Regions from separate parts of the Homo sapiens genome. Here all the other regions are linked to region 4. Evidence: fine-mapped expression QTL. A gene starts in region 4. Each other region holds a variant in brackets. All regions are shown on one strand. Distances are from middle to middle.

Region 1 (8,103 bases), 22 kb before region 4:
GAGCTGGTTCCTCAGGAGACAGTGCTTCTGAGACACAGTCCCTAGGCACATGGACTTGAGAGAACTGGGAGGTGACAAAAACTGCATCATATTTTGTATTTTCTCTGTCCATCCCAAAGGCTTAGGGCTGGAGCCTTCGGTGGGGCAGGTGAAATCTCTCAAGAAGAACAAGGTTCCAGGGGCTGTGACCTGTAATCCCTCCTGACATATCACAAGTCTCCACTGGATGTCATGTCTGCATCCTCCAGCTATGCCATGGGTAAGACAGGCTGCAGAGGGAGAAGGGAGTCAGAGGATGCTTCACGCAGCAGTTCAGGCTGCCAAGCTGCAGCCACAGGACAGAGGCCTTCTCCACCGAAGATCAGCCTTGGCTGCAGTTGTGGGCAGCAGGAGTCAGTGCAGGCCCCTATCTGGGCTACGCTGCTGTCAAATGGTCCATCTGGGAGATGCCCCAGGATGAGCTGGGCACTCCTACATCTGAGACAGAGCCCAGGCCCAGCATTTTCCAGACCAACCCCCGACCCAATGCCTATACAACAATGCTGGTAATCAGAATCTTCTCAACCTTCAGTTTCTTCAAAATGGCTCTTCATAGTCTTTAGGATTCAAACCACCTGAATGGGGAAGCTGGCATGATTCGAGGAACCTCAAGGTTAAGTCTTATCTACAATGGTGGGGATGTCACTCCAATGAAGGCAACAGACAGATCCTTCTACAGCCTCCCTGCTGCCCACTAGGCCATGTCTGTCTCTGTGACGAGGAGTGACTAGGAGGTCCCAGTGTGGACACTGGCCTTTTTAAAATAAGGGGTCTTAACTTTTTTTGTACTAGGGACCCCTTTAACACCTAGATGAAGCCTGTTCTCCTGTTCTCAGTATAACAGAGTTAGATGAATAAAGGTAAACATACAGGATTACAAAGAAAAATGGTTGTGTTGAAGTCGAGTTATCAAAATATTTTGAGAGACAGTATTTTATGGGCTTCTTATGAACACACTGGATAGCAAGACCTATCGGCAACTCTGACAACTCTCTTCATCTCTAAGTGCTGAGCATAAATGCTATTTTAAGATATGTATAACAACAGTAAGAGAAAATAAAAATATTTGTGATTGCTATTGGTACGAAGTACTGCAAATATTGTGGTTTGTTGTCCACATTTCAGATTAAAGGAAGTGCTCAATTTAATTTAAAAGTAAGTGAAAATAAAAACGCATTACTTTTCCCATGAGTTGTATCCAGATTAAGAAAATAATTCTGCTGTATGCCCAAGCTGAACAACCACTGCTTCAGTGTCCCTAATCCATTGCCCTCTTTATAAATTCAATTCAAAGAATTTGCTCAATTTCCTTTAAAAAAAAAAAAAAAAAGAAAAAGTGAAGAAAATCTAAAGCAGAACAAAACAGAAACCAGTTTGTTTTCCCCTGGGCAGAAAAAAAGTCACTTCCCCAGCCCCCTGGCAGGGCTGCTGGGTGGGGGACGGCGCCTGGGATTCCCTGCTGAGCCTCTAAGGAGCGTCCAATCTCCTGCCTTCCAGTCTCTTCCCTGCCCTGAGGAATTATTCTTTCTTTTGCCCCCAACACTACCCACAAAGTTCTTCCACAGTGAGGACGGAAAGGGGTCTCCCAGAATTTTTTAACTTTTCAAGTTGAATCGTTTATGCTAATGAGCCTGGGAAAAACTTTAATGTTTCAGTGGTGGAAAAACATATGCTTTGACCTCATTTTGCTCACAAGAGGCCACGTCAAATTTTGCTTCACTTTTGTGGGATGGCAAGAAACGTGGAACTCCAGCTCCAAGGAGGAGGCCATGTGCAGATGGTCTAGGGAAGGTGGTCTGGGCACACCCAAGTTTCCTGCCCCAGAAACCCTGGAGCCGCCCATCCTCATAATGGTCTTGGTGCTTCCGGCTGGGGCTAGGAGATTCCTTTGTGCTCCAGCACCAAGGAGCCCGGCCACACCACCAGGGTTGCCCCGGCTCTCCAAGCCAAGACTCAGACAAAAGGCTCTAAAATGACCCGCTCCCCCGACAGTGAGCTCCCCAAGCTCTCTTCCTCAGTTCTTGCTGGGCAAGCCTGGGTAAGTCATTTAACTTCATTGGGTTGCAGTTTCCTCATCTGTAAAATGGGCATGATAAAACCTAACCAGTTATGTTGTCAGAAAGATTAAGGGTGATAAGTATGACCACATTTCATGGCATGTACCAGACATTCCATTACTATTAGTGACCTTCCCACCATCTGATCATTTTGCAAGGCAGTGTTCAGTGCACTAGAAGGAGTCTAGGCTTTGGAGTAAGACAGACTTATTTGGAAATAATTGTAAATCCCAACTCTGCCACTGACTAGCTGGGTGACCTTGGCAAGTCACTCTGAGCTTTTCACTCCTTATCTTTAACTCAGGGCTAGTACACTGTGTTGTAGGTGGGTTTGGTAAGAGTGAAGGAAAGTAGCTCATATGAAATGGTCACACAGCATCTGTGTATGTGCTTAATGAATATTTGTTCTCTTTCCTTCCTCTCACCTTCCAAATCCCAGCAAAACCATGGGGATGCGGGGAGAGGAGAGCAGCTCTGCACAAGGCAAGCACTGAGTATGACTTCTGGCCTTTGATTTGAACTTTCTGCTACAGGATGTATGTTCTTTCTGGGGAAGGAGGTCCCCATAGATTTAATCAAAAAGGGAGGACCCTGGAAACAATGGAAAAAGCAAAGGCTACTAGGAATCTCCTGCTCGTGGGGCTGAGCCTAAGTTCTGCTTGCCAGGCATGAGAAGGATGGAATCTGCTGGCCTCTGCCCACCCCAGCCACCCGGGTACCCCTGGCCTGGAGGGCAGGCCCCTCCGCCATCTTCAAGCCAGGGTGTTTTTCTATCCTAGCCACTACTCTTTTGTTCCTGCCTCCTTTCTGGGAGGCCCTGAATTATGAGACTATGGAAAATTCAGGCTGTTTTCCCTGTGGCTGTATTTTCCACATCGCATCACTGAAATGTGTCAATGGCCAACCTCTTCAGACACGGGAGCATGCCACCCACTTAAAATGCCCCTCTACTGGTTTAGAATGTTCCTTTTCAGCAGCAGCAAGTCTGACACCCCATCAGTGGTGAGAACAAAAGAAAGTAGGTGTGAGATTCCACAGTTTCCTAACCATCTTCCACTGATATCTTCTCCCCTGAGCCCAAGGAGCTCTGCCATCCCTGGGAGAGGAAAACCATACAGTTGTCCTTTTGTGATGTTGGTTTTCCATCTGAGGCCTTTGGAAGGGGGAGGGGCTCAATGACTCTTGATGTTAATGACACAAGCTGTAACCCGGGAATGGAAGGCTGGGGATCAAAACAACTCAACATTATGGCTGCAAACCACCATGACTTTATCAGAAATATATCTTTTAATTGAAATGGCCAAAATTTACAACTGGGTTCATATTCCAGTTCTACCATTTTACCGTCTGCCATGACTTGCGGAATTTAACTTCTTTAAACTCCAGTGCCCTCATCTATAAAATAATATTATATCTACTTCATAGTGTTTTAAGAATTAGAAAACACGTAAAACACTGGGTATACAGCCCAGCAAACAGTAGGTGTCCAACAATGTAGATGAATGAACAAAGGCAAGAAAAACAGAGGTTCATTTTTTAAACAAATCAGACTCATTTACATACTTACAGCTCTTTACAGAATCTTACCTTCAAGGAATTTTACTTCCGTTTCTATTCCCCAATTTGCAACTAGGTCACACAGCTTTCATCTACTAAGTATGTATTCAACTACTCAACCCCTATCCATGTCCAGCACAGACACAGGGATACGGAGGTGGCACACAACAGGTGAAATCCCTGCCTCCCCAGAGTTCAGTCTTCAGACAATCCTTTATGAACTTCTAAATTTTTTCCCTGGGCCTGAGAACACCCTTTCCCAGCTGGTCTTCACCATCTTTCTCAGCATTAGGTGGCCCATCCTCTCAATTATTAATTTTTTGAGATATGATAAAAACAAGGGCACCAAGACCCTGCTTCCTGAAAAAGGAAATTCCATGTCCACCATGCACTAAAAACTGAACTGAACTGGAAATAAGTTTCCAGATCTGATGGCTGCATGATTTGGAGAAAACTACATCCCTCCCATCTCTGATTTCTCATCTGTAAAACAGGAGGTTTGGTCTGAAGCAGGGGTGGAACACAGGTTTCAAGGATAGTCCTTTCCCAACTGTCAGTTGCTGCTTGGAAGTGCTGTGCTGCCTCAAGTGCTGAGGCTATCTGGGCTCATAAGGAAACAACTCTGCAATTGATTAGTAATGTCTGCCATGTGCCCGGAGGTGGGGTATGGCAGTGGATGGGCCACATGTGTTCCTTCCTGGTTCAGAGGAGTTCAGGGGACCCTGTGAATTCTACCATTTATAATTGTGTGACTCAGTGATATACTGTTTTACTTTATCTTTGGCATGAGGCCTGTCTTTACACAAATAGCTTTTTCATCTGTTTGGTCTAGCACCTTAGCCACCATCATCTTTCAGAAGCCTTCTCAGTTACTCTTTCAAAGCAACAGCAACCTTACAACAAAATAAACATATTTACTGATTCATCACACTCAAATTCAGTAAACTACTGCTTCCTGCCACAAGGGGTCCAGGAAATTAGGTCAGAAAGGAGAATTTACACTTATTCAGCATCTATTAAACACCATTCTCCAGACATGGCCTCCTACTTGTAAAATACCCTCCTCGGGCAGTCATTAAATCCTCTTTTCACAGAGCAGCAACCAATGCTCAGAGCCATGAGGGAAGTTTCCCCAGAAGCAGGGATTTCAACTTGCAGCAGTTTGGATTCCAAATTCTACCACTATGCTCCCCTAAAACGTACCCAAATATCTTGTTTATTCTTTCTCTTCCAGGAGGTGGAGGTGAAAAATGAAACTGA[C/A]AGTAGACAGAGCAATGAGATCTGAACAAACATTTAGATGACTCAATCTCCATCCATCATTTTTCCCATAGTCTGCTGGGGATGTGACCAAGAGTAGAGGTTTCCTGCCTGATTGGAGAGACCAGCTCATTTATTAGATTCGGGGGCATGACTGTGAATTCCCTGGGAGCATTAAACATGTCCTTCTGCATTCCCCGCTTCCCATCCTGACCCACTTCCCTTCCACTGCTCCGGGCTCTGACCCTGGAAGAGGAGACGGTGTGACTGGGGCCTCTGTTGGCACTGTCCCCTGGCCTACCTCCCGGGAAGCCCTCGCTACCACAGGTGGGAATTGATAAACAACCATCATCACCACAAAACCTCCTTGGAGGCCTGAGTCCCCCATAGGACCTCTTGGGAGTCTGGAGCCCCTTTACAGGGAAGTGGGAGGCCCCTCATGCCTCTGGGGAGTCTTTGAGGACACCATGGAGGGGTAAGGGTGGGGCTCATAAAGGAGGGTGTGGAGTGGGTGTTAATTCCTGAATGGTCAAGGAAATCACATCTCTGGATCCCCACAATCTCCACGATGCAGCCTGAGCCTGCATACGCCCAGGCCTAGGGAAAGTTTTCAGCATGTTGGCTACAGACCAGGGTGAGGGGTGAGAAACTCAGGTCAGTGGCATCAGTTAAGCTTTAAAAACACTCCCTGAGACTATGGCTGCCACACTGCAGAGGCAACCGCTGGAAACAGAGTTGGGGAACGCACTGCCTTATCCAAGGACAGCAGGGGCCAGGAATTTTGAGACAGTCCTTCAGCTTACATTGGGCACTTATGTCCTCTAGTGCCTACAGTCATGAAGACTGAAAGGTTGAAAAAAAAACTTCTACCTTGTGCCCTGCTGGTGGGAATGCAAAATGGCGCAGCCACTATGGAAAACAGTATGGTGTTTCCTCAGAACATTAAAAATAGAATGACCTTATGATCTAGCAATTCCACTTCTGGGTATATATCCAAAAGAAGTGAAAGCATTTGATATGAAAGAATATCAAAGAGATATTTGCATACCTGTGTTCATAGCAGCATTATTCACAATAGCCAAAAGGTGGAAGCAACCCAAGGGTGCATTGACAAATGAATGGAGAAACAAAACATGGTATGAATATATGAATATATCTATGTATATACACAAACCATGTATTATCATTCAGCCTTAAAAAGGAATGAGACTCTGATACCTGCTACAGCATGGATGAACCCTGAGGACATTACACTAAGAGAAATTCACCAGTCACAAAAATACAAATACAGTATGATTCCACTCATATGAGGTACCTTGAGTGGTCAGAATCATACAGACAGAAAGAAGAATGGAGGTTGCCAGGGGATTGCAGGAGGGGGGCATTGTTTAATGGGTATAGCATCTCTGATTTGCAAGATGAGAAGAATTCTGGAGAATTCTTTTCTCCAGTATAATTAACCCTGCTGAATTATATGTGTCAACATTGTTAAGATGATATTTTATATTATATACATTTTATCACAATTTTTTGTATGTTGCATTAAGAACATGAGTCTTGGAAGTTTTGGAATCCACAAGACCTAAGTGCTTCATTTTATTTCTCTTTTTTAGTACTGGCTCAGCCACCTACAAGTTCTGTTTTATAATTTTCTCTGAGCCTCAGTTACTTCATCTGTAAAATGGGGTCAACTGGGTGTCTGCCTTGTATCATTGTCATGTGGATCGTGTGAAGGAATGCAAGTCAGATGCCTGGCACAGCGCCTGACTAAATAAGGGAATACTGGGACATGTTGTAGCCCTTGATGTTATTTTAAAAACAAAACAAAATGGACTCAATGAGTTTTTTGGAATGATGCCAACAGGTAAAGAAGGACAGGGCCACAAATTTGGCAGCCAGGATACAAAGACCCTATGGTGAAAGTTATCCAGGCTTGTCTGGAAGAATCCCCAGGTCCTGAGAGCAGTGGACAGCCACACACCTGCATGGAGGAGCTGTTGGGCCCCTGACATGCCCAGGCTACTCAGAGACCACAGAAATCAGCTTGTTCTGCAGCCGACACCATCAACCTAATGAGAGTTCAAGTTCAATTACTGTCACTTATCTGTCCTGTCTACTGGCACCAAGCAAAAGCAAAGTGCTCCATTTCTAAGTAACGGTTTCCAGATTTCAAGGCCAGAAGCCAGGCTTTTTGCAGGGTACAGGCTTTGCAGCCCAAAGGGGCTCAAGCCTTCAGCTTCAGCAGGATTAAGCAAAGCTCCATCGCCACGAATGTCTGTCTTCCAAACCACATCTTCCTGGCTCTTTCCTCTAGGGATTGCATGAAGTCTCATTACAGTATACAGTACAGGACATGGTAAAGCACTGCAGATGCAGGATATGTTCCTAACTCAGCATGTATTCCTAACTCCTTGGCATGGCTCTCAAAGGCCTGCCTGATCTCATCCCTGCCTCTCCCCCAGCTTTACTTGCTGCTCCCCCACGCACATCTCCAGCTCTGGCATTCTAAATTGTTTAGCGTTCCTCCAACATATTCTTATTTCCACATGCCTCCTTGACTTTGAACAAGAAATACTTGTTCAACGAATACCCTTTTTCCCCACAACTGAGAATTCCTAGACAACATTCAAAATACAGCTCAACTGCCACCTCTTCCAGGGAGCCTGTCAAGAAGTGTGAAGGGTCTAAGATTCTATTCTACTTGCAAGATGATACATGTTCCTGCCACGGTTTCATGGCTGCTAGCAGAAGACATGAGACTTCTGGGTCAGAGACAAAGGACTTTATTTCAGCAACACGGAAACAGCATAAGCCTCTTGTCTGTATCAGTTCTCCTTGCCTGCAGGTTCCACACTGCCCCATGGAGGGGTCCAGACGGATGCTGCACATGCATTGGGTTTACATCACACCTAAGGGATCTCAAGCTCAGAGAACCCAAACCTTTGATAATGGACTGCAAGCAAACCTGCCCTCTGCCAAGGAGGGAGAGCTAGCTCTGTTTTTCAAGGCCACCGCCTAGAAAAGATGGCCTGGAACAAGAGATCAATTAGTGTCAGATATAGTTTGGATATTTGTCCTCTTTAAATCTCATGTTGAAATTTGATCTCTAGTGTTGGAGGTGGGACCTAGCAGAAGGTAGCTGGGTCATGGGGGCAGATCCCTTATGAGTGGCTTGCTGCTGTTCTCGCTCTAT
Region 2 (8,103 bases), 43 kb before region 4:
GGTAGGGACCCTATCTGGGTCAGCTTGGCACCCCAAAGCGTACCACAGCACCTGATTCTGAGGAGGCTCTCAGTAGATATCTGTTGAGTAACCAGAATGTAGGGTGGTCCTGATGGTTTCTGACATTGAATAGAAAACAGCTCCCTATTTGATCTTAAAATAATCACTATAACCTGGACATACTGTACTAGATGCTGTTTTTGTCTGACTTCTACTCTGTCAATCTCTTTGCACCTCCATTTGTTCATCTGTGAAATGAAGAAAATGCTCATGGAGTTCAGTGAAGATTAAATGAATGAATATAGGTAGACTGCCTAATCTGGCACTTGCCACGCAGCTGACTTCAATATAGTAGCTCTAATATTATGGTCCTTGAGGATCTTACTGTCTTATGGCCCAGAACTGCATTTGATTAAAGAAGGCTCCCCTAAAAAAAGAGTCATACATATTCCATTTGTCCTTTCAGAAGGCCGTGAAGCATTTACACTCTTTAAGACAAATTCCCATCCAAAAATAGTTAAGATTTCTAAAATATTTTGATGCTGAAAGAGGTGTGCTTCAGTTGGGTGGCAAATTTGCTTCTATGGAAGATTTTTAATACAGGTTGTTTCTATTTTACTTTTTCTGGCTGAAAGGATTTTACATTTATTCAAAGTCAAAAGGGAAAAGAAATCCAAGAACTACAGAAGAGCAGTTGAAGTGATTTATGCTTGATTTCTAAATGCAACTTATGTTTATACATAATTTAAAACTCAAAGAAAGCATGCTTATACAATCATGTGCAACTTTAAACTTTAAGAACTCTGGATGAATACATGGTGGCAACAGTCCATGACACCTGAAAACATCATTTGTGGAGTGGCGTAGAGTTCAGTGTTCGCAGTCGCATATTACAACCATGTTTCACACAGCCCTGCTCGGTTTGATTTTCTCCACGTGGTTGATAATTGTCTTCAGTTGCTGCTAAGTGATTTTGCAAATTTCATTTATAATCCTCGCCCTACAATTACCTAAGTACTGTTTCTGCAGGTTAACCTGTATGCTACGCTCAGTCATATACCTTTCAAAGTTACTAATGCAACTGCCAAAGAGGGACAGTGTCAATATCATTGTCTTCATTAGAAGGACGGCTGCCCCACACTGTGAGAACACTGCTGTTCCTAACAGTAGTTTACTTTTAGAGGGATGTGAGAATTAGTTTGACCTTAATTCCAGATGTGCATGCCTCAAAAGAAAAATCCCATTCTCCTTCCTTTTGGGGAGCACTTTTGGTGGCACCAAGGCTGGTGTGGGGTAGTGGAGAGAGCACTGAGCTTAGAGTCACAACCAGATGAAACTGCTCTGGTCTTCACTAGCTGTGTGACTTGGGCAAGCAGCTTGCAGTCTCTGAGCCTCTGAGATCCCTGATGGACGAGGAGAACAATGACCCCCTCCCCAGGCTGTGCTGAGAGAGGGAATTGATCTTGGATATGAAAATGCTGCCCTGGCACAGAGGTAGGAGCTGAGCAACACTGCTGGATGAATAAACACATGTAATGCAGGGTGAACAGAACATTTCATCTGCAACAGCTGAAGGCACAGCTTACCTATGCCCATGGAAAGAACTGCGTGGAAAATTCATTTGTTGCATTTTTGCCAGGTTGATGTTTGCAAAGCAGGGCACTCTTCTCCACATTTCCCCAAAACCAATCAGAGGGAGACTCCACATTGTTTCCATCTCCTCCCCTCAAACAATTATCAAAGCCATGTAGAACAAACGGCTGTCTGCCAACTGGTAGAGGCAAAGCAGCCAATAATCTGGACAGGGGTGGCAAACTGCTCCTGCAGTTTAACCCTGCCTGACTCTCCCAAGCACCAGACTGTGAAGCCTGGAGAACAGCCTGGGGGAGCTGAACAAATGCACAACACCTCATGCTGTCAAGCCAGAGGGGAAACTTACTGGGAAGAAGATGTAGGAAGAAGCCTGGTCAGCCCACGCCTAAAGCACACACCTGGGGAAATAAATTAGCTATTTCTATTGCACATCTACCCACAGCCTGGTCCAGATCTAAATCTCTTCCCCTCCCAGCAGTGCAGCGGCGGCAGCCGCAGGCTCCCTCAGCGCCATCTCTTCAGTCAGGCTCCTCTCCAGGTCCTCCAGCTCCTGGCGCACCTCCTCCATGAAGCTGCCAACTTCATACTCATCGGGGACCTCTCTGGGCAGCAGGATCTCCCCATCTTGGTCACGGCTCCCCACGAAGGTCGGCTTGCACACATACACCAGGCTGTGGCTGGGGAGAGATGGGACAAAGCCAGGCTCTAAACGTGGGAGCCTGCCCAGGCCGAAAGCTAAGGCGCCCTGACTCTGTGGGGCTCCCAGCCTCACCTTCATGCCCCCTCCTCTCCTGTCTCTTCAACAGAGACACTTCACTTCCCGTCAACATCTATCTTAAAATGATGGCTGAGGGAGGCTCACTTTGGGAGAATGTGCTGGTGGGGGGCAGCTTCCCCTCCTCCAGCGCAGGCCTGACCTCCTGTGACTCTCAGGCCCCGCAGCCCAGGGGCAGGACCTGAGTGCTATGTAGCAGCACCACAGCCCCTCAAAGACTGTGGCCCATTCGGGCCTCCAGGCAGGAGTCAGCCTGACTCTGGGGTGTAGTCTAGCCACATGCAGGGAGCCATGGACCTCTGTGGGAATAGGGAGGAAGAATTCCTTTTTTTAAAAAAAATTAATGTGTTTGGTAGAGACGGGATCTCCCTATGTTGCCCAGGCTGGTCTTGAACTCTTGGCCTCAAGCAATCCTCCTGCATTGGCCTCCCAAAGCTCTGGGATTACAGGTGTGAGCCACTGCACAGAGCCGTGGGGAATGGGAGTTCTGCCTGTCTGCCCAGCAGCCCTGGATTCTGTTGGGAGAGAAGACTGAGTAGAGGCTGCGGGGAGGACAGGGAGATGTGCCCTGAGAAGCTGGCCAGGCTTGAGCCTCATGCCTCATGGAGTCTCAGCAGCCTCAGACAGTGTGGGCTGCACCCTCCACCTTGGTGGCCACTCCTGGCCTCCCCGTGGCCTCTCTGCCAGCTCCTTTTTCTCTGCTTATCTGTCATTGTGACAGGTCTGGGGAGGGAGCCCAGGCTTTTCTCCCTCCATGTCCTCTCCATGGACCATCCACTCATGAAGCTTCAGCCACCAGCTAGATGAGCCCCAGATCTGTGCCTCCTGGGCAGCCTGGGCTCCAGACCCCTAGAACCGACTGCTGATTGGACCCTTCCATCTGCATGACCCAACGACCTCTCAAACCAATCCTAAAGGGAATCTACACCTCCCCCAGGGAAAACCTGCTCCTGCTCCTACGCCCCTGCTGGATGGCACCTCCTCAGCCCTTGGCTCCCTGAGAGTGAGGGTTAGGGGGCCTCACCTGTGGGGCTGGCAGAGGAGGCCACTGGCACAAGGGCATCGGTCCAAGGCTCCATCAGGCTCTAGCTCCCAGGTGATGAGGTCCAGAAGCCGGCTGGCGGGGTCATGGCAAAGCTCGCCCTCCACGGGCAGGGGTGTGCACACAGGGAACAGCAGGCCTGGAACCAGCCCAGAGTCACCCCTGTGTGCCCCGTGTAGGGTAGAAGGGCTCCAAAGGGAGGGGCAAAGAAATGGAGCATAACCTCCCACCTCCCACCCTCAACCCCAAAGTGCAGGCTAGTTTTGAAGATACGGAATGACAGGAAACAAGAATAGCAGCCTGGGCTCAGGAGGGAATGATTGGTAGGGCTGAAGCAGGGAGGACTGCCTGGAAGAGGTGGGCTTCTGCTGGATTTTGAGGGCCAGAAAGTCTGGAGAAATTAAGAGGGAGGCAAAGGCATTCAGGCACAGGGACAGCACCAGCAAAGGCCTGGGGTTGAGCTCAGTGGAAAATGTCAGGGCCGGTGAAATTCCCAAATAGGCCAAGAAGTAGTGGAGAGAAAAGGAGGGCAAGTAAGTTGGAGCTGCATGAGGCCTCACAAGACAGCCTAAGGAGTCTGAACATCGTGGGAGACAACAGGAGCTGCTGCAGGTCCCAGGGGAGCAACACCCAAAAAGCAGCCCTTTAGGAAGATCACGGAGGCGGCAGGTACAGGGAGGACTAGTGGGCTGGGGATGCAGAGCTGGGGAGGCGGCAAATGAGAATTTTTCAAAACCCTAGTGGGGGCGGAGAGAGCCTGAGCAGACCTCACCTGGGAGAGGCAGGACGGAAGATGGGAGTGGAAGCGGGTGATTCACAGGTAGAGGAACCTGGGAAATAAGGAGTGGTGGGAGGGAGGGGGCTGCTAGTCCCACCCCATTCCAGACTGGGCTTTTGCATCCTGAAGTCATTTAACTTTTCTGAGCATCAACA[G/C]GGGAAAAAAAAGAGGTGGTCTTCCCACTCCGGGCAGAGGCTGTGGGAGTGCAGCACACACTGATGAGCATTTGGGAGCCTATCCAAGAGGTGGGACGCGAAACCATGTGGTTGGCATGGACGTGGCTCCAGGAGGTCCAGTGTGGTGGAGCTTGGGACAGGGTTTTTCCTGCATCTGAGGGGAGGCCACTCACCTCTCTGGAAGGCACAGCACAGCCCCGGCTGGCAGTCCCTCTGGTTGTCACAGATGGTCCCATTGCTGCCCCTGGTGGCCATTTTGGTGCAGTGACCCCAGACACACAGCTGGTCTCCACAGCACTCACTGTCCCGGGTGCAGAGCTGCAGACAGGTGGAAAGAGCCTAGAGCCAGCGGCTTAGGGACTGGGGGCCTGCTGAGAGCCCAGCCTGAAGATACCACAGATAGGCCAACCTGCATCCTCCCATTGTAGAGACAGGCAGACCAGGCTGAGATTTCAGTGAAAGTCAGTGGGACAGAGGTGGGAGCTTGGCTGGCGAGACATGGGGGTCAGAACGCTGGAAAAATGGCACCGGGAGGACTCATGGATCTGAGTCTTTCTCCACAGCTTAAGATTTTGCAAAGAACAGCAGGGGGTCTTTGTGGTCCCCACAGACTTGTGCTGTTCCCTTTTTCCTTAGGTCCCTAGGTCCAGGCCCAAAGAGGCAAGGCCCAATGATGAGCCGATTAAACTAAGGCCCAAGCCAGCCCAAGATGAGGATGGCCTGTGGGTGCCAGGGTCCTGCAGCCACACAGGGCATGGCAGTTAGAGAGCAAAGTGAGGTCCCCACGGCTGTGCCCAGTGACGGTACCGAGTGGGGTTGGCTGCGAGGTGCAACAGCAGTGGCCTCACCACAGACAGTCGGGTAAGGTAATAAGAACTGCTTGACTTTCCAAGCTTATTAGCATGCTGTGTTATTGTCTGAATAAGGAAAAATGACTATGAAAAGTCTGTGAGTCCATGTGGCTTCGTCCAAAATGCCTGTTGGGTGAAGAGTCTCCTTTGCCCTGGCTCCACATTTCCCAATCTAACCTGCACTGGGGCAGTGCCCTGGCCTCTTCTTGCCCTGTCCCTCTGCCCTCTCTTATTGGCAGATTGGAGAAAGATCTGGTGGGTGGGGTGCAGGTCCAGAAGGAGAGCAGCTGCCGCTCTCCCTGCCTGGGGGCTGCCGGAATGTCTCTGTTTGTCTATTAGGATGGGTCATCCCCAGGGGAAGCAACAGGTGTAGGGACACCTCCTCTCCCTTCCCTCCCCTTCTCGAACTCCCGGCCTCAATAGATCCTTCTGCCTTGGTCTCCCCAAAGTGCTGGGATTACAGGTGTAGCCACGGTGCCTGGCCGTCCCTCCCCTTCTCTACCATCAATGACACAAACAACATGACCAGAGGACATGGGGTGGATGGGAGTGGCCCTGGGTCTGCAGATGGCTTCCTGTCATCCCAAACTGGAATGAGTTCCTTGTCCTCCAGGAGTCAGCCCTCTGGGGAGCCCTCTTGGGTCCTCCCCATCATGGTGAGGCTCTTCTGGGAAGCCCAGCTGAGAACGCTGGGGCCCCTGGCTTTCTCCCCCAGGTGCCTGAGACCCTGGTGCCACAGCCCCAGAGGCCCTGGCATACTCACCATCCTCTGGCCCCGGCATGGCTGGCAGGTGTACTGGAAGCTGGCAAACTGGCAGTACATGCTGGGCCCACAGTCCTCGTCGATGATGCACTCCTGGGGAAGGGCACAGGGAGCAGATGTGTCAATGGAGAGCAGAGCAGCAGGCCCACAGTGCCCAGGAAGGGCCAGGCCCGCTTCCATTCCCCATTCTTGACCCCACAGGCTCAGCAGGGTCAGGAAAGGCCTCCAGACTCTAGTCGCTCCTGATCCCTGCCTGGCTGCACTGCCCTTCAGCATCTCCATGCCTAGGAGGCTTGGCAGCCCAGAGCCTGGAGGATCCCACACCAAATTCACACAATCGCCATCTGTGCACAGTTCTCCCCCACCCACACCCAGGGCGGGAGCACAGGGACTCAGGGCTGGTCTTCCACACAGAACATATGGATTTAATAAAAAGTGCTAATGAGGTCCAGGCCCGCCCGACTGCACAGGAAAGGCTGGAAGACAGGCCCCAAGGGCTCTGCTGACTGTGAAGACTGGGAGGCAGCAGAGGGGGCATCGCTAGGGACCCTGCCAGAAAGCCACAGCCCTGCCCACAGAGAGCGCCCTCAGGGTCCTGGGTCTAGGGTCCCTGCAAGAGGGAAAGGCAGCTGCCAGCTTGGAAATGAATTAGAGGAGGGTGGCTGGACTCCAGCCCTCCCAGCCCAGGTGCTGTCTCCTCATGGCTGCCAGCTCTGCCTGGCTGGAGAAACAGGGAGAGAAGGAGTGAGGGGAATCTGTCCACCCCAAGGCCTGAGTCACAGAACAGGGAGCCATGGCCGAGGGCACTGTGACCTGCCATGGTCGCCGGTCACTGGCAGAAGCAGGGCTGCTTCAGCTCCTGGACCTGCTGTCAGGCTCAGGCCTACGAACCGGCAGCTTTACAGCAGGGGAAGGAGGGCAGGGGAGGAGGGAACATGATGACAGGAATGGCCATTGATCGCCCTTTTGAGGTATCAGGCTTGACGGCCCTGATCTTGTTCAGTGACTCCTCCCAGCAGGAGGCAGGTAGGGACTGCCTTCTCTATATTGCCAGCCGGGAAATGGAGGCAGAGAGGTCCCTCCAAGATAATGTGACTAGTTCAGGGTGGAGGGTCTCTTTCCACCACCAGCCCTTGAGCCAAGGGGGTTCAGGGCTCCACATGTAGCAGCCAGTGGTGAGAAGGACCCTCCTGAGGCCTGGTATTCTGGGGCCCAGCAGACCTTCTGGAAGGGTCTTGAGGAAGGGAAGGACCGGCTCTCCCCTCTGACCCAGAGCATCCTCCCCATCCTGAATGCAGGTGTGGAGCCCCACCTGGAAGAGCCTGGCCGGGCAGGCCTGGACCTCCGGCAGCTGCCTCCAGTCCCCTTCCAGGGGCTCTGCTGCTCTGATCAACACTGCAAGTGCTGGCGGCCCAGCAACCAGGGTGCTCCCTTGCCAAGCATTGATGCTTTTGTTTCAGTTACTTTCCCAGCACCCCTTAAATGTCAGGCATGATACCATCGCTGTTTTTACGGATAAGAAAACCGAGGCTCCGAGTAGGGTGAACGGCCGCCCAAGTGAAGGGACTGAGTCTGAGCCAGAGCCCCAGCGGCCAGAGAAGTCCCAACAGGGCTGGGAACAAATCACAGACGCGCTTTGTCTCAGCCCAGCACACGCTCTTGTGCACAGACACAACTCAGGCTGCTCAGCCGGAAGCCTCCCGACGTTCTTTCCAAAGCAGAATGGCAAGAAAATGGAGTGGGAGGGACGACATTTGGGAGAAAGGAAGGGCCAACAGGCACAGAATCCCTTCTCTGAACCAGCCATATTTTGAGGGACTGGGGACACAAAGGTGAATGTGAGGAGGCCTCTGCCCTTAAGAAATTCGTAATTCAATTGGAAAAAGAGAGAGAGAAAGAGCAACCCAGTGGCAAAGGAGACAAAGGGTATGAACGGACAACTTAGAATAACAGAAATTTGCCTCTTCAAATAGAAAGGCGTTCAACCTCACCAATGAAATCAATCAAGAAATGCAACTTAAAAGAGCATAACACCATTTTTTTCACTTAGAATGGAAGAAATTAGAAAGGTTGAATGTCTCCATGGTGGGTGGAATAACAGCACCCCCAAAGATGTTCACATCCT
Region 3 (8,103 bases), 38 kb after region 4:
AAATATTCTTGTTTTAAGTCTAAGTTCCAAAATATTATATTAGTAAATATGCTGACTTCCCTATACTGCACTCCTCAAGACTTAATGCACAGAAATCCTTAGTAAGTGGGAAGAAACAAAAGATTTGAACAGTAAAAATGCTGCAGGAATCCAGCACTGTTTGAAGGTTGCCTTTCTCCGAAGGTTACTGTTCAGAAAGAGAGGAGAGAGAGACCAACGTATCTCCCTGTACCTTGAAAGCCATTCTCCTCCAAGACATCTGTCAAGAGTTTCTGTCCATGTGGGTTATGGAAATGGTGTTAACTCGTGCAGAATTTTAATTACCTGTCTCAGGGGCCAAATGTATTTATGTATGTATCCATGTCATGATTATTTATTCATTCAATGAATGTTCAGAATCCTACAATATACCAGCTGTAATGCCTCATCATGAAATGTAAAACTGAAGAAAGCGGGGTTCTATTCTCAACGAGGGAGCCTCTGCCCTCACTTTTCTTTTTCATCACTTGAGCACCAATACCGAGCAGCCTCGTCTGTTTTTTTTTGCTTGTTTGTTTCCCCCCTGACATAGCATAAACTTAACTCTAGACGATTGTGTAGGATTGCTGCTGGAGTCCTGGATGCTAGTCTTTTATTTTATTTTTTAGTGACACTCACTCACTTTGTGTCCTAAAGCAAGCCCAGTTCCGTCTCTGTGCCTTGGTCTCGCCTCAGACAAATGGGGTATCCATTTGCCCTGCCAAACTCTAAGGGGTATTGTGAGGGCCAGACAGGGCAACAGATGCTGAAAGCATTTGAAATGAACAGAGCTGTGTAGAAGTGTCAGGCAGTACTCTTCCTGTGCCCCGGGTCACCGTAACTTGAAGAGCATCTGGACATATGTCAGAGAAAATAAAAACTGTTTTTGTTTCTCAGTGAAAATACCTGCCTTTTGAGACTTTCATTTAAAATGAAAACATTCCAAAGTAGTATGTGATCTTGAACAAGTCATTTTCCTCTCTGAGTCTCAGTTTATTCTCCTATAAAATAAGCCAGTGAGACTAGATGGATACATTTCAAATTCTGCTCTAGAAAATTCTTCACTGGGAAGAGATTCTTTTATCCCCACATCTGCAACCAGAACCACCATATATTTTTCAAATTTTACCCTCATTTTACTTATTTGGCTTCTATGTGAGGTCTTTTTGGTTTTCTTTTTCTTTTAAAGTGAAAGTAAGTTTATTAACAAAGTAAGAAAATAAAAGAATGGCTACTCCATAGTCAGGGCAGTGGCTTCTGTTTTGTTTTGTTGTTTTTCCTAAATAAAAATCCTAAGGCTAAAACAAAAAAAGAAAACCAGAACACGGCTAGATCACCTGTAGGGCCATTCTTCCCGGCCTTCGTGTCTGCACACGGAAGACCCACGTGCTTTCTGCTTAACGTGTGTGCATTCCTCTTGTATGTGTCAGGCGTGCACGAGGCCTCTCAGGACAGAATTCCTTTGCAGGGGGATTGACAATGAGTCATAACCTGCTTGACTTTTAAGTGTGCACTCAGAGATGACCATTTTTTATAGCAGAATTCCCGAGTCTAAACAACCTTTGGCAGCTGAAGACTGAGAATGAAATTCACCAACCAGTCCAGGGAAAACCTCTTCCAAAAGCTGTAATATTTTTGTTGGATGCAGGTGTGACCCGTGGTCTTGCCGTGGGGGAAGGGAATGGCTGTGGGAACAGTGCCACCTTGTGGCCATTTTTATGAGCAGACACTACCCAGTGCTGAGCTGAGGGCTGGTTCCTGGATGGTTACACTCCTGAAGAGGGACTTTCATTTTGGGATTGGGAAGGGGCCCAGAGATACACTGAGACCAGAGCCAGTCCCCACCTGGCAGCAAGCTCAGCTGCCTGAGTCAGAAGCCCTTCTCCAAAGTTACCACACTCCTGAGGCCCAGGAAGGCTGCCAGGCTGGGCGTGTGGTTATTGGGAGGGTCATGTGGCTGTCACTAGCAGGAACGTGTCTGGATATGGGAGTGGGAGGCAGAGTCTGAGAGGAGACAGAACAAATTTCACAATGGCCATGGCTGAGCCCCAGTTGGGAAGACGGTGACCCAGGAAGTATGCAAAGTGGTGGCAGGAGGGTGGTGTCCTCTTGTCTAGAAACCCAGGAGGCCTACAAAGCAGAGAGGACTCTACCTGTCCCCTCACCCCTGACCGTAGCCTGGGGCCTAAATGAGCCCTCCTACTCTCCGCCTTGCTGCCACGCCACCATCCCTGGCACAGGGTTCCTGGGAGGACAAAACGAGATGGATGAGGCTTAACACAGCATCTGGTGCGTGGGAAGCCCTCAGACATCCCTGTGCCTGTCCCCTCCCTCTCCTACTCTGTGCACTAGACATTGGAGTGACAACAATGAACCCAGCACAGCTGCTGTCAGAACTCACAGGCTGGCTGGGCGTGATGGTGCACACCTGTAATCCCAGGACTTTGGGAGGCTGAGATGGGAGGATCGCTTCGGTCTGGGAGTTGGAGACTAGCTTAGGTAACATATGGAGATTCCGTTGTTACAAAAGATAAAAAACAATCAGCCAGGTGTGGTGGCACGCTCCTATAGGTTCAGCTACTCAGGAAGCTAAGGTAGTGATCACTTGAGCCCAGGAAGATGAGGCTGCAGTGAGCTGTGATCACACAACTGCACTCCAACCTGGGTGACGGAGTGAGACCCTGTCTCAAAAAAATAAAAAATAAGAAGGACAGGTGTGGTGGCTCATGCCTGTAATCCCAGCACTTTGGGAGGCTGAAGTGGGAAGATTATTTGGAGTCAGGAGTCCAAGACTAGCCTAGGCAACTTAACAAGACCCTGTCTCCACAAAAAAATATAAAAATTAGCCAGGCATGGTGGTGTGCCCTGTAGTCCCAGCTACTCAGGAGGCTGAGGTGGAGGATTGCTGGAGCCCAGGAGTTCAAGACTGCAGTGAGCCATGATTATGCCACTGCACTCCAGCCTAGGGGACAGAGTGAGACCCTGTCTCAAAAAAAAAAAAAAAAAAAAAGGTAAAAAGAAACACCATAAAAATAAATTTAATAATAATACATTTAATAAGATATATCCAATATCTTGTCATTTTAAAATGTAATTAAAATAAAATTCAGTAATTAAAATTCATCAACTTCCCTAAGAGCTGGAAAATTAATGAAATATTTTATATTCTTGTTTTCTATGCTGCTTGAAATTCTGTGTGTATTTTACACCCACAGCACATCTCAATTTGGACTCACCACATTTCAAGCCCTAAATAGCCACATGTGGCTAGTGGCTACTGCACGGCACAGCACAGGGCTGGTGCAAGGAAAGGCGCTCACACACATATACACAATACACACACATACACAAATACACACACACACACATATCCACACACATACAAACACACACATGCACATACACACACATGCACACACACACACAAACATATATACACACACACATATACACACCCAGAGGTCAGTAAGTTACTGGTCAGTAACTTTATAAGGGGCACAAAGTTGATGGGTGATATGGTTGGGCTCTCTGTCCCCACCCAAATCTCATCTAGAATTGTAATCCCCACGTGTGGAGGAAGGGACTTGGTAGGAGGTGATTGGATCATGGGGGCTGTTTTCCCCCTTGCCATTCTAGTGATAGTGAGTTCTCATGAGATCTAATGGTTTAAAAGCGTGTGGTAGATTCCCTTGCTCTCTGTCCTGCCACCATGTGAAGAAGGTCCTTGCTTCCTCTTCGCCTTCCGCCATGATTGTTAGTGTCATGAGGCTTCCCAGTCATGCTTCCTGTTAAGCCTGTGGAACTGTGAGTCAGTTAAACCTCTTTTCTTTATAAATTACCCCGTCTCAGGCAGTTCTTTACAGCAGTGTGAAAATGGAGTAATACAGTGGGGGAGGCTAACTTGGACTGGGAAGGTAAGAAAAGTCCTCTTGGAGGAGGTGGTGTTTAAACCTGGCTGGCTGGCTGCATGAGACTTGAAAGTGAAGCGATGGGGAAAGGCTGGAGGGTGGGAGAGGGGTTGGCCTGTCCATGCACCATCCAGGCACCTTCTGATAGAATGAGAGTGAGTGAACTATAGCTCTCAAGCCAAACTCTGCCTGCCACCTGTGTCTGTATGCCCTAAGAGCTAAGAATGGTTTTCACATTTTCTTTTAGACAGGGTCTTGTTCCAGTGCCCAGGTGGGAGTGTAGTGGCATGATCTCGGTTCACTGCAGCCTTGATCTCTGGGGCTCATT[C/T]GATCCTCCTACCTCAGCCTCCTCACCTCAGCAGCCTCACCACCTCCCTCATCTCCACTCAACCTCTCCACTCCAGCCACGCTGACCGCTTTAATGCCCTGGTGATCACCCTCCCCTTCTCCTCCAGGGCTTTCCCTGGCTGCCCCCTCCACTGCAAAGTCCTTTCCTATCTCCTCTCTCCCTGTGGCCAACTCCTCCACTTCAGAGACCAGCCTTGACTTCACATCCTCTCCTGCTTCCCAGTTACCTCCAAAAGGGCCTCTGCCAAGCCATCCTCTCTGGTTTCTCTCTGAAAATCCAGGGTTGGCACAGTGTGAAGAGTGCACAGGGGCCTAGAGGCCTGGGCTCTGGAATGCTCCCGTTTCCAGACTCAGCTGCCTCCCCTGCCTCTTCCCCAGGGCTGCCAGTAAAGTGCCTTTTCCCTGCAGGAAAAAGAGCTGCCCCAGTTGGGCCTGGAAAAAGGGCAGGCATTCCCTCACTTGGCTGGCCAGGGGGGCTGGAAGTCTTTGACAGCCCTGCGGTCAGTCCCAGGGCCAAGTCCTTGTCCCCTCCTGGCAAATTTATGCGCACCTGAACTCTGCAGGATGCCCAGGAGGGGGCGCCAAAGTGCTGCCAAAAAAGAACAGTTTGGGGCATATGAATCAGATGGCCTCGTGGGAGTGCTTAGTGAGGGCTGGCTCTGAGTTCTTTTTACCCCAGCCCCTGCCCAGGGCCAGGCACTGTGTGTGGAATGGAGGAAAGGACACCATGCAAGAACTGACAAGGTCCTGCACATCTCCTATGCTGGCATTTCTTACGATCACAATGACTTTGGTGTTCCAGGCCCAGAGGCTGGGAGCTGGCAGGAAGCTTGACCATTGTGAAGAGCTAGTGTGCCTAAAGTGGCCTACAGATTTGTTGAGGGAGGCTAGGTGGGGTCAGGAAGGCAGGACCCCTTGAGCCAGTTGCCTCTGGCAGCAAACAGTCTCATTATTGCGTAATTAGTATTTTCTATGTTGACTTGACATGGACGTGGTTGGGAAGCACTATCCAATATGGAAGCCACTAGCTACATGTGACCACAGTACTTACGTTTTAATTAAGATTAAATAAGCAGGCTGGGGGGTGGTAGCTCATACCTATAATCCCAGCACTTTGGGAGGCTGAGGTGGGCAGATCTCTTGACCCCAGGAGTCTGAGACCAGGCTGGGCAACTTGTTGAAACCTGTCTCTACCAAAATACTTAGCCGGGCATGGTGGTGCATACCTATAGTCCTAGCTACTTGGGAGGCTGAGGTGGGAGAATCACCTGAGCCCAGGAAGTTGAGGCTACGATGAGCCAAGATCACGCCACTGCACTCCAGCCTGGGTGACAGAGCAAGACCCTGTCTCAAATAAATAAACAAATTAAGATAAAATAAAATTTAAAATCCAGTTCTTTACTTCATTAGCCACATTTCAAGTACTCGATGGCCACATGTGGCCAGTGGCTCTCATGTCAGCACAGAAATAAACATTTCCATCATTGAAAGTTCTGTTGGACAGTGCCACCCTAGAACTTGCTCTGATCTCTTGTGGGTAGGGTGTGCTTTAGAATTTCAGAGAGTTCACTGTTAGCATGCTGCCTCCCATGGATATGGTTGTTACAAGGTTATGAGAAAGGCAGTCAGACCCACCTAGGATTAACCCCTGATTTTGCTGGTTACAAGCAAAGTGTCCTCTATGCAAGGGCTCTGCAGGGCTGACACGGGACTTGAGCATCCGCAGACTTTGGTATTCAAGGGGATCAGGCAACCAAACCCCCACAGTTAGCAAGAGACAACTGGACTACTTTTGTGGCTTCAGAGAAGTCACTTAATCTCTTTCAATCTCTGTTTTCTCATCTCTAAACTGGGGATAATATCACCCTGCCGCCACAGTTATTATTAGATGAGCTAAGACAGATAAATCACAAAACGCAGTGCCTAGGACACAGTTTTGCGGCCTTACCGCCCCAGCCGAGTGTGCCTTTCTGCGTGCACTCACCCACAAGCCCTCATCCCCTGGCTATACTGTGTCCAGACCTGTGTCGGGTTCCACATCTCGTTCAAAGGCAGCACCGGGCTTGATTCTTGCACCGGGCTTGATTCTTGCCTAGAAGGAGATTGCAATCTAGGTCAGAAGGCAAGATAAGGCCCATGAAGCAACCTGAAAACAATTCTTAGGCAACACACAGGGCAGTGTGTCATCCCGTGAGCCAGAGTCTGATGGGAAAGTAGTGTGGGGTGGGAGGCTCTTCTAAGTCCTCGTAGAGAAAGTGGGTGAGATTAGAACTGGTCTTGAAACAGCGTAGAGTTTGGACCGGCAGAGCCAATGAGAGAGAAGTGGCAGCAGGGAATGGTGTGAGGGCAGAGGAACAGCGTGAGCAAAGAAATGCTCAGAGGTGGGTAAGGGAGGGGCCAGAGCTAACACAGTATGGGGCAGCTTGGCCGAGGTGCTCAGGAAGGGGACACACTTCCTGAGAAGAGAATTTGCTAAGAAGATACTCAGATCTTGGAAGCCAGGCTGAGTTGCTTAAGTTTAATGAGACAGGTGGTCATCAGGCAGGCGGGGCCTTGAGCATGGAAACTGGCAAGGCCTGGGGAGGATTGCACTGACAGCAGAAGTCGGAGGTCTGTGAGGGAGATCCTGCAGTCAGGGTGACGTCAGCGAGAAGTGACACCAGCGGCCTTCCGGGGCAGTGCATGGTACCATTTACAGAGCGCTGTTAACATAGCCTGGGCTCAAATTGCTGGGTCCTAACACAGTAACCAAAAACTGGACTCCATTGGTCTACACAACAAGTCAACATCAAATTGGGAAGGAGCAGTGGGTAGGCACCAAGAAGAAACAGAGCAGAGGAAATGCCTGTCACAGTGTGTCAAGATCTGAGCCCCAGCCCCTTAATCAGTTAAGAAAAAGAACAGGGGCCGGGTGCGGTGGCTCGCGCCTATAATCCCAGCACTTTGAGAGGCCAAGGCGGGCAGATCACGATGTCAGGAGTTCAAGACCAGCCTGGCCAACACAGTGAAACCCTGTCTGTACTAAAAATACAAAAAATTAGCTGGGCCTGTAATCCCAGCTACTTGGGAGGCTGAGGGAGGAGAATCACTTGAACCTGGGAGGCGGAGGTTGCAGTGAGCCAAGATCGCGTCACTGCACTCCAGCCTGGGTGACAGTGCGAGACTCTGTGTCAAAAAAAAAAAAAAAGAAAAAAGAAAAAGAACAGGTACAAGGAGGAGAAGAAGGGGGTGTCTAGAAAGAGGACTGGGTGTCTGAGAAACAGGGCTGGGTGTCACATCACACACATACACAGGCACACACAGTCACATTCACATGCCTGTACACATAAACACATATAAGGACACACATATAAGCCCCCCAACTTACTCTTCATGCTAATCATACCCAGAGACCCTTAAGGATACATGCAAATGCATATGTACGGGCACACATCAATACGTATGTGTATATACACGTGTTCTTCCTCAGCCCAGCCTCTCCTTTTAGGCCTGGAGCTGGGGCTGACATTGGGTTTACATCAATCAAAGCCACTAGGAAACGTCTATCCTGCCTGGGCCCAGAGTCCATTTCTGACAGAGGCTTCTCCAGGCTTTACTTGTAAACGCTATTTATTTTGGAAAGCAACTTCTCTGTTTTCAAATAAAACGTTGGGACATGCAGTATTGGATTTCCCTGATCTGACATTGACCTAGAAAAATGTGCTGGCAGGAACAGAAAATGCGATGCCCCACTGTGCTGGCAGGCACAAGAGTTTCCCTCCTCTTGGCTTTGATTGCAAAGGTTAAGATGCAAGTGAGAGAGCGCAGTTCCCCCTCCCTGCCTGAGCAG
Region 4 (8,103 bases):
TAGTCTTTTTATAAAACTTTTCCCCCCAGCTCAGCCACTGGTTATTTCAACAGAATGAGCTAACGGTTCTTAAATGGCACCATGAACTAAAAGTATAGTTTACAATGGAAATTTCAACCGCAACTATTATTGCCACTAGCAAGAGAAACTTAAGTCTGAAGCAAAAGGAGCTGTTTCGTAGAGGAGGAATGTGAATGCTATTAAAAATGGCACTTATACTAGAAATAGGTGAGGCAGTAAGAACATTCTAAAATGAGTGAGTTACAGAGCTGGCCATGAGGGGAAGAGAAACAGAGTGGTTATATCTTCAGAATACATTGATTGGTAGCATATAGAATAGTAACACAGGAAAGTAGGAATATCCCAGATTGAAGCCATTTGAAGATATGCTTCTTCCAATAATGACCGTACAAGTAGAGCTGCTTTGTCCTTCCCCTTAAGAAACTTCAACAGCTTGATTCAGCTGGAACATTGAAAATGCCAGGAAGTTACTTGAAAGGAGATTCATGATGCAACTATGTAAACAAATAATGCATCTGGCCCAGGTCCTTTTTGATTTTTCCCCTGAACAATGACTAAATACCAATTATCCTGTGTCTATGAGATTTAAGGGGCATTCTGGCAGTCTCCATAAAAAGTTAATACTAATAACCACAGTCTATAAACAATCTATTGTATTCTATTTTTGAAGATATCTAAAAGATACTTTTAGTATTTTAAGATTAATTTTTAATGGTTTAAGATATTTTAAAAGATAGATTCTATTGAGAATCTATCAGACACTGGTGGTGTTTTGTTATCATTCATACTGCTACTAGTAATATGATGATAATGATACCTGTTACTTATTTACAACCAACCATCATGTCATCCTTACAGCCACCTCACAATGAAGCTACCTGTATTACACGTGTTTTACTTAACCCCATTTTAGGCAGTCAGCGGATGGCCTGCCCTAGAACCACAGGCATCACAAGCTCAATTTAATGTGAAGCTGCAGAATTAAGAGACATTGGGGCCTATATGACTCCCTTCACCCTTTAATTGTTCCATGTCATGATAGTTTCACAATCACAGGAAACAAAGATCATGGATCTTGGGCTCTTGACCTGACCAGTGGATATTCAGGGATAGCTGCCCAACTCACTGATTTGCTTTACTTGCAGCATCTCATTTAATTCTCACCTTACCCTAAGAGGTGGACATTTCTCCACTTCAGACTCGGAACGCCACTGCCAGTAAGTGGCAGAGCAGGGACTGGATGAGGGAAGATCAGTCCCCACTGCCTCTTCTCCTGCCATGGTGTTCAACCTCTCTCATCCTGTACCCACTGCCAGCGAGGACACCTCTGGGAAAGAGTGGGGTAGAAGTGACAGCCCACATCTCCTCTGGTGGCAAACTTCAACCCCCCAACCTACACAGAGCCACATCTAGAGGGAGGAAAGCTGGGGTCTTGGCAAAATCCAGTCTGGATAACGCCCATGGAGAAGACCCCGTCACTAGGTCCTGCAGGGCCCCACACTGCTCTGCTCAAGAAGAGACTGAAGAGGCCCTTGCTGCTCTCTCTCCTCCCTCAGCAGAAGCTAACGTCAGAGGACCACGCTGCAGACTTTCTGAACAGTGGTGGGCACAAAAACATAGAGGTGACTTAGTCAGTCTTACCGGGAATCTGTGTGCAGGAGGGAAAGTCCTAGAACCTGGATAAGGAAAGCAGATGGCCTGCCCTAGAACCAGAGGCATCGCAAACTCCACTTAATTTGAAGCTTCAGAGTTAAGAGACATTGGGGCCTATCTGAATCCCTTCACCCTTTAATTGCTCCATGTCATGATTGTTTTGCAATCACAGGAAACAGAAAGATCATGGGTCTTGGGATCTGGGCCTGTCCAGTGGATATTCAAGGACAGCTGCCCATTTCACTGCCTCCCAAGCCAGTGTCCCCTTCACTGCAAACTCCACAGGCTAACTGTTGTGGAGTGGGAGGGGAAATAGCCCCAAACTACAAAGGGCTGCGGGGAGAAAGCAACTTCCCCCTGGAGACAAGGGCCAGCAGTTAAGGCTTTGCCCAAGGGGGATACCAAGCTGGAGACAGCAGGGATGTGAAGCCAGACCAGGGGCCAACCAGCCTGGACATTGGTTTCCTGCTGCCTCCTTCACTAGGACGGCTGGCTCCTCTCTATAGACACAGGCTACAGACAGATTGGGCCCAACAGCGCCCTCGTCTACCCACCCCAGGCACCAGGGACAGCTCCCCGCACCTGGACAGAGAGGGCTGGGCCAGTGACATCTCCTGCCCAGGTAGCCCTGGGCATGCGTGGGTGACCATCACAGAGGACAGAACAAGATGCCACCCACAGTGTTTAGACCTGGAGGTGATGGAGGGCAGAAGCTAGGCAAAGCTTTGCTAAGGTACGTGGTATCTGATAATAGTTGCTAAATACTGCGCACCTATTATTTGCCAGGTGCCCACACATATGACATTTAGTTTTCACAGGAAACTGAGGTGCAGGATATTAAGTGATTTGCCCAATGTCACCCTGCTACTGAGTGGCAGAGGAGGACCTGAGCCCAGGACAACTGCGAAGCACCGTTGGGTGGAGGGGGTATTGCCTCTCACATCCTCATCCGCCACTCATACAGTGCTGAGATTTAGGATTTCCATCTTCCCTCTCTGCCCCCACATTGCGTGAGAAGCAAGACAGCCCAGACAGACTGCCAGCAAAGCTCAGGGCTCTTTGCCTCTTTGTCCCTGCATGGCATCCTAACAAGCTCAAAGCATAACGGACAAGCTAGAACTTGGCGATGCCTGGAGCTTGTCCCGGGTTTCTGTGAAACCACAGTGCTGGAATACCAGGGGCCCTGCAAACCTCTGCTGACAATAGGGAAGGCCAACGGCATGCCTGACGCCAACTGCAGGCAGGTGGTGGCCCCAGCTACCTAGGGAGGGTCCAGTGCAGAGCCTCTCGGTGGACAGGCTCAGATCCAGACTTTTTGGCAAGGAGGCAAAACGAGGCGGGAGTAGGGATCACCGTGCGCTGCCTCCAGGTCACTCCGCATCTGCTGTCGGCCCTTCCCAGGCCCTGCGCGGGACCCGAGGTCCCTGGCCAGCGCTCTTCCATGCCTTCCCAGACTTCGCTGCCCCCAGTCTGGCGCTTCTCAGAGCCCCGCGCCGCCAGGGCGCACCCACCTCTTCCACCGCGCTGCGCAATTTGTGCTGCGTGTCCTCCATCAGTTCCTCAACCTCGCGGAACATCTCATTGAGGGTGGCCTCCTCCTGCGGGTAGCTGAGAGCCGGGCCGGGCTTGACTGGAGCCGAGGTCGCCGTCGGAGCGGGCGCGGGGGCCGTGGGGACCGCCGCCGCCAGCAGCAGGCACAGCAGGGTGGCCCCAAGCCGCTGCATCTCCGCTCTGCGCCCGCAGCCGCCGCCTGTGTGTCCCGGAACGCGATCAGAGGCGCGCGGACCACCCCCCTCGCTGGGCCCGCCGCCCCGCCCCGTTCCGCCCCGCCGCCCGCCCCTGGCGCCCCTCTTTCCCGCACCCGCCCGGAGACGGGAGGAAACCGAGGCCCCTGAAAACGCAGCTCCCCTACACCCGAAAAGACGCGACCCCACCCGCTCCAGCCCGAGCCCCGATCGCCCCAGGACCCCGCACCCCCATCCTCGAGCACAAGCTGAGCTCTGCTCCTCACCTGTGATGCTGGAGCCCTCGCCAGAGCAACCGAACCCGGATCCTCTACGCTAATAGCTCCCAAGCCCCAGCTCACCTAGACTCTGTCCCCGGTTCAAACCCTAGCCCCTCCTCGACCAGGTCAGAGTGCCCGACCCCCACTTCCACCTCAAGCCTCTCTCAGCCCCTACCTGGGGTGGACCAAGCACAGGTCAGCCCCCTCCCCTTGGCGTCGGGTCCTACTCGAGCGCCCCGCCCCACATCCACCAAGAGAGGCTGAGCTCAGCAGAGTCGTCCCCTCCCCCGCCGCCGCCCCTCACCCACCCCGACTGGACCGAGTTGCGCTGCGGGCCGGACTGGATCTGCTCGCTCCCGCCGGGAGGCCGCCGGGCTGCGGGTGCAGATGCGGGAGCGGCGCGGTGGGCGGGCCGCGGGTGCGGGAGCGCGGCGGGGTGCGGCAGCGCCGGTACCCGAGGGAGCCCGCAAGACGCGCCCCGCCCGCCCACCAGGCTCCCTCTCCGCCCCCGCCCCGAGCCCCGCCCGCCCACCAGGCCCACCCCGCCCCGCGGAGGGGCCGCAGCCCGGCCATTGGCCAGCCGGGGCGCCGGCCACCTCACGCCCCACGCCCCACGCCCTCCTCTTCTGCCTCAGCGACCAGCTCTACCGAAGGCAGCCATCTCCTTCACTGCCTGCCCCTGCGCCCGCGGCATCCCAGGCCCGTCTTCTCTGGCCTCCAGGCTTGCAACAGCCCACCGAGGTTGGGGGTAGGGGGAATGTTCCTCAGTCCCACCTTGGTCTTTCCAAGCCAACCTCTGTCCTGTGAAATCCTCAGGAAAAATCCCAGCCCCCAGCCTGGCATTCAAGCCATCACCGCTGGCCTTAGTCTGCCGTGATTGACACCGTGCTCCAGCCAGGATAACGCACTTGCAGCTCCTGGAATGGGAGAACGTCATGAGAAAGTCAGCAAGCTCCTCAAGGGTGGCATAGAGGAGTGGTCAGGACCAGACACCTGCAGCCAGCTCTGCTCCTTCCTAACTTCCCGCCCTGGCGAAGTTACCAGATTTGTATGCGTCCCAGTTAGCCCTAATATAAAACTTTGACAAGTCTCAAAAACGTAATAAGGAGTGGGTAGTGGAGAATCAGAGAAGTTAGACGATCAGGCCAAACAGCAGGTGAAGGCAGGGATGGCCAGAGGTCCTGAGTGTAGCTGACTGCTCTCCAGCTTGAAACCCCAAGACTGCCTTTCTCTGCAGCACTCCCCACATTACTGTTTACCGCCAAAACAGCCGCTTTCCCTTCTACTTCTGGGCCTGGGGCAGGGCCCTCCTGAACTGCAAGGAAAGCCCCATTCCCCGGCATCTCCTGCTCTGTCCCCTGGGCATCTGGAAGCCCTGGTTGAGCATTCATTAGCTTTCTGGGGGTGGCTGAGCCCGTCCAGGAACCTGGAGCTGAGTCTCCACATGCCCCCGCTTGTCACTTCGGGCAGAGTGGACATTAGGAAGAAACTAATGCCGAACTGGAGGGTGCTGTGGGGGCATATTGTGGGGCCGAGCTAGGAAATGCAGTGCTGCGGGTTTACAGAGCACATCATGCTCTTCCAGTCCTTCATGTTGCTGGCTTAAAGACCAGGAATTTCCCCAGCTGAGATTGTCTTCTGCCTTACACCTTCTACCATGCGGTCTGGAGGTCTTGACTTTCAGAGTCAACCTAAAAATCTCTCTATATCGAACTGCCCCAAGTGTCAGGCAAAGGGACGCTTGTTTTCTTGTGTGGAGTCTACATTTTGTATTCCCAAATGTAATAATTTATCAGTAGTTCAATTATTAGGTTAAACTACAAACGAAAAAAAGAAAGGAAAGAAAAGAAGGAAAGAAAGAGAGAAAGAGAAAGAGAGAAAGAAAGAAAAGAAAGAAAGAAAGAAAGAAAGAAAGAAAGAAAGAAAGAAAGAAAGAAAGAAAGAAAGAAAGAAAGGGAGAGAGAAGAAACGGTAAGAAAATCTACAGGTCTCAAATATAAGTGGTCTTCCTGCCCAGCTCCATGCCAGTCCGCGCACCAGCCTGAGACATTCATGGGCTCGAAGGAAAAGCCCTGGGGCCAGCTGTAGAGATGAGCCCAAACCAGATCTGGACAAGGAGTGTCAGCTCCAAAGAACTCAGACTGGGGAGCCCAGTGGGGTCGGGGACTTGTTGGAGAAAGGGCCAGTCTGGATGGCCATTGTGAGGTGAGGGGCACAGAGCAGGCAGAGAGTGCAGAGCCATCCAGGACAATCATAGGTAGAGTAGAGAACATTCTACATTTCCACAATTCCCATTGTGTCACTGGCTAAGCTCTGTATCCACTGGGAACAGTTGATTTTTTCTTTTAAGTCATTGGAAACACATTCTGGAATTATTATTTAAAATTTTAGGTTCTCACATTTTCTCTATGAGGGAGCTCCCAAGTCATAAACTGGGGACCCATTTCATGGTTGAGGAAATGGCAGCAAAGCGGATATAACTGGCTGAAAATTGCCTAGAAAGTGGCCACACAGCAATTTCACAATTAGCTGTCCACCCTCCAGAAACTCATGACCATGTGCAAAAGAAGACATGTATAAAGATGTTTACTGAGGCAGTATCTATAATGGCAAAAAATGTGGAAACTACTTGCTGGTGTTTTCCAGCAGGAGAATGGATAGACCGGGGCTTCTACAATAATAGAATACTGTACAGCAGGTAGAATAATGAACAATATTTATAGGCAGCAACATCACCAACTCTCAAAAATATAATATGAGGTGGAAAAGGCAATTTGCGAAAAGACATATATGGGATACGATTTGTGCATATCTTAGAAAAACAGAACAATAGCATTCATTGTTTATGGATTCTCACATATAATAAAAATATAGAAATGTGCAGGCTGCCTCTGAGGTGGGAGGCAAGGAAGGGATGGAGGATGTCTTCAGTTGTATTGATAACATTTTATTTCTTCAAGAAAGGGAGTGTACCAGCATGGAGGAATTCTGAAACAGAAGTGTCCAAATATTCGCATCTGTTTAATCAACCATGATGATTACTTACATCAGGATATATGGGTGTGGCTGGTTCTTTTTATTATTTTTGGTATATTTAAAATATTTTGTGAATAAATTGGTAAATAAAAGCAGAAGGCACCATCCCATCCTCCAAACAAAACAAAACAAAAACAACTCAAAAAAACCTCTTGTAGTCAAGTAGACTTTTTTCTTATATCTGTTCTTGGCAAAATGCTGACCTCCCCAAGGCCCAGCAGTGGCCCCCTTTACTGTGAGGTGAGGAGGGGTATCCACACCAGGCTGGAGTAGAGGTATCACATTATCTGACTTCAAACAATACTACAAGCCTATGGTAACCAAAACAGCATGGTACTGGTACAAAAATAAACACATAGATCAATGGAATGAATAAAGAACCCATAAATGAAGACACACACCTATAGCCAACTGATTTTCAACAAAGTCAACAAAAATTAACAATGGGGAAAGGATTCTGGGAAAACTGGCTAGGCATATGCAGAAGAATAACAATAGATCCCCTACATCTTACCATATATAAAAATTAACTCAAGATGGATTAAGACTTAAATGTAAGCTTTGAAACTATAAAAATACTAGAAGAAAACCTAAGAGAAACTGTTCTGGACATTGGTCTAGGCAAAGAATTTATGACTACGACTTCAAAACCAAATGCAACAATAACAAAAATAGACAAATGGGACTTAATTAAACTAAAAAGCTTCTGCACAGCAAAAGAAACAATCAACAGGGTATATAGACAACCTGTTGTCTATATACAGAATGAGAGAAAATATTTCCAAACTGCATCTGACAAATGACTAATATCCAGAATCTATAAGGAACTTGAACAAATAAAAAAAACTCCAAATAACCCCATTAAAAAGTGGGCAAAAGACATGAATAGACACTTCTCAAAAGAAGACATACAAGTGGCCAACAAATATATGAAAATATGCTCAGTATCACTAAATTCATCAGAAAAATGCAAATTAAATCCACAATGAAATAGTATCTCATACCAGTCAGAATGGCTATTATTAAAAAGTCAAAAAATAACATGTTGGCAAGGATGTGAAGAAAAGGGAACACTTATACAGTATCGGTGGGAATGTGTATTAGTTTGATATGGTTTGGCTGTGTCCCCACCCAAATCTCATCTTGAATTGTAGCTCCCATAATCCCCATGTGCCATGAGAGGGACCCAGTGGGAGCTAATTGAATCATTAGGGCAGGTCTTTCCCATGTTGTTCTCATGGTAGTGAATAAGTCTCACAAGATCTGATGTTTTTATAAGGTGATTTTTCCTTCCTTTGCTCTGCACTTCTCCTTGCTGCTGCCACTTGAAGAAGGACGTGTTTGCTTCACCTTCTGCTGTGATTGTAAGTTTCCTCAGACCTCCCCAG

What was found. PIP is the estimated chance that this variant, and not a neighbour inherited with it, causes the effect.
Region 1: its variant is fine-mapped to the expression of DKK3 in whole blood (TOPMed, PIP above 0.99).
Region 2: its variant is fine-mapped to the expression of DKK3 in cerebellar hemisphere (GTEx, PIP above 0.99).
Region 3: its variant is fine-mapped to the expression of DKK3 in gastroesophageal junction (GTEx, PIP above 0.99).

What each region holds. Positions count from the first base shown.
Region 1 is chr11:11,983,304-11,991,406 of GRCh38, forward strand. All of the region lies in intron 3 of DKK3 (dickkopf Wnt signaling pathway inhibitor 3), which reads right to left. Among named protein-coding and RNA genes, the nearest start is that of DKK3, 21 kb to the right of the region's middle. The variant C/A (reference allele first, on the strand shown) is at 4,914.
Region 2 is chr11:11,962,417-11,970,519 of GRCh38, forward strand. It overlaps DKK3 (dickkopf Wnt signaling pathway inhibitor 3), which reads right to left. Exons shown (of 7, transcript NM_001018057.2): 4 at 5,979-6,071; 5 at 4,538-4,682; 6 at 3,393-3,549; 7 at 620-2,270. The coding sequence ends at 2,048. Among named protein-coding and RNA genes, the nearest start is that of DKK3, 42 kb to the right of the region's middle. RefSeq lists a silencer at 4,557-4,606 and enhancers at 5,449-6,073, 6,074-6,697, 6,698-7,321, 7,322-7,945. The variant G/C (reference allele first, on the strand shown) is at 4,344.
Region 3 is chr11:12,042,703-12,050,805 of GRCh38, forward strand. All of the region lies in intron 1 of LINC02547 (long intergenic non-protein coding RNA 2547), which reads left to right. Among named protein-coding and RNA genes, the nearest start is that of LINC02547, 16 kb to the left of the region's middle. The variant C/T (reference allele first, on the strand shown) is at 4,255.
Region 4 is chr11:12,005,185-12,013,287 of GRCh38, forward strand. DKK3 (dickkopf Wnt signaling pathway inhibitor 3) reads right to left here and starts at 3,442. Exons shown (of 7, transcript NM_001018057.2): 1 at 3,186-3,442. The coding sequence starts at 3,398. RefSeq lists an enhancer at 1,694-2,629.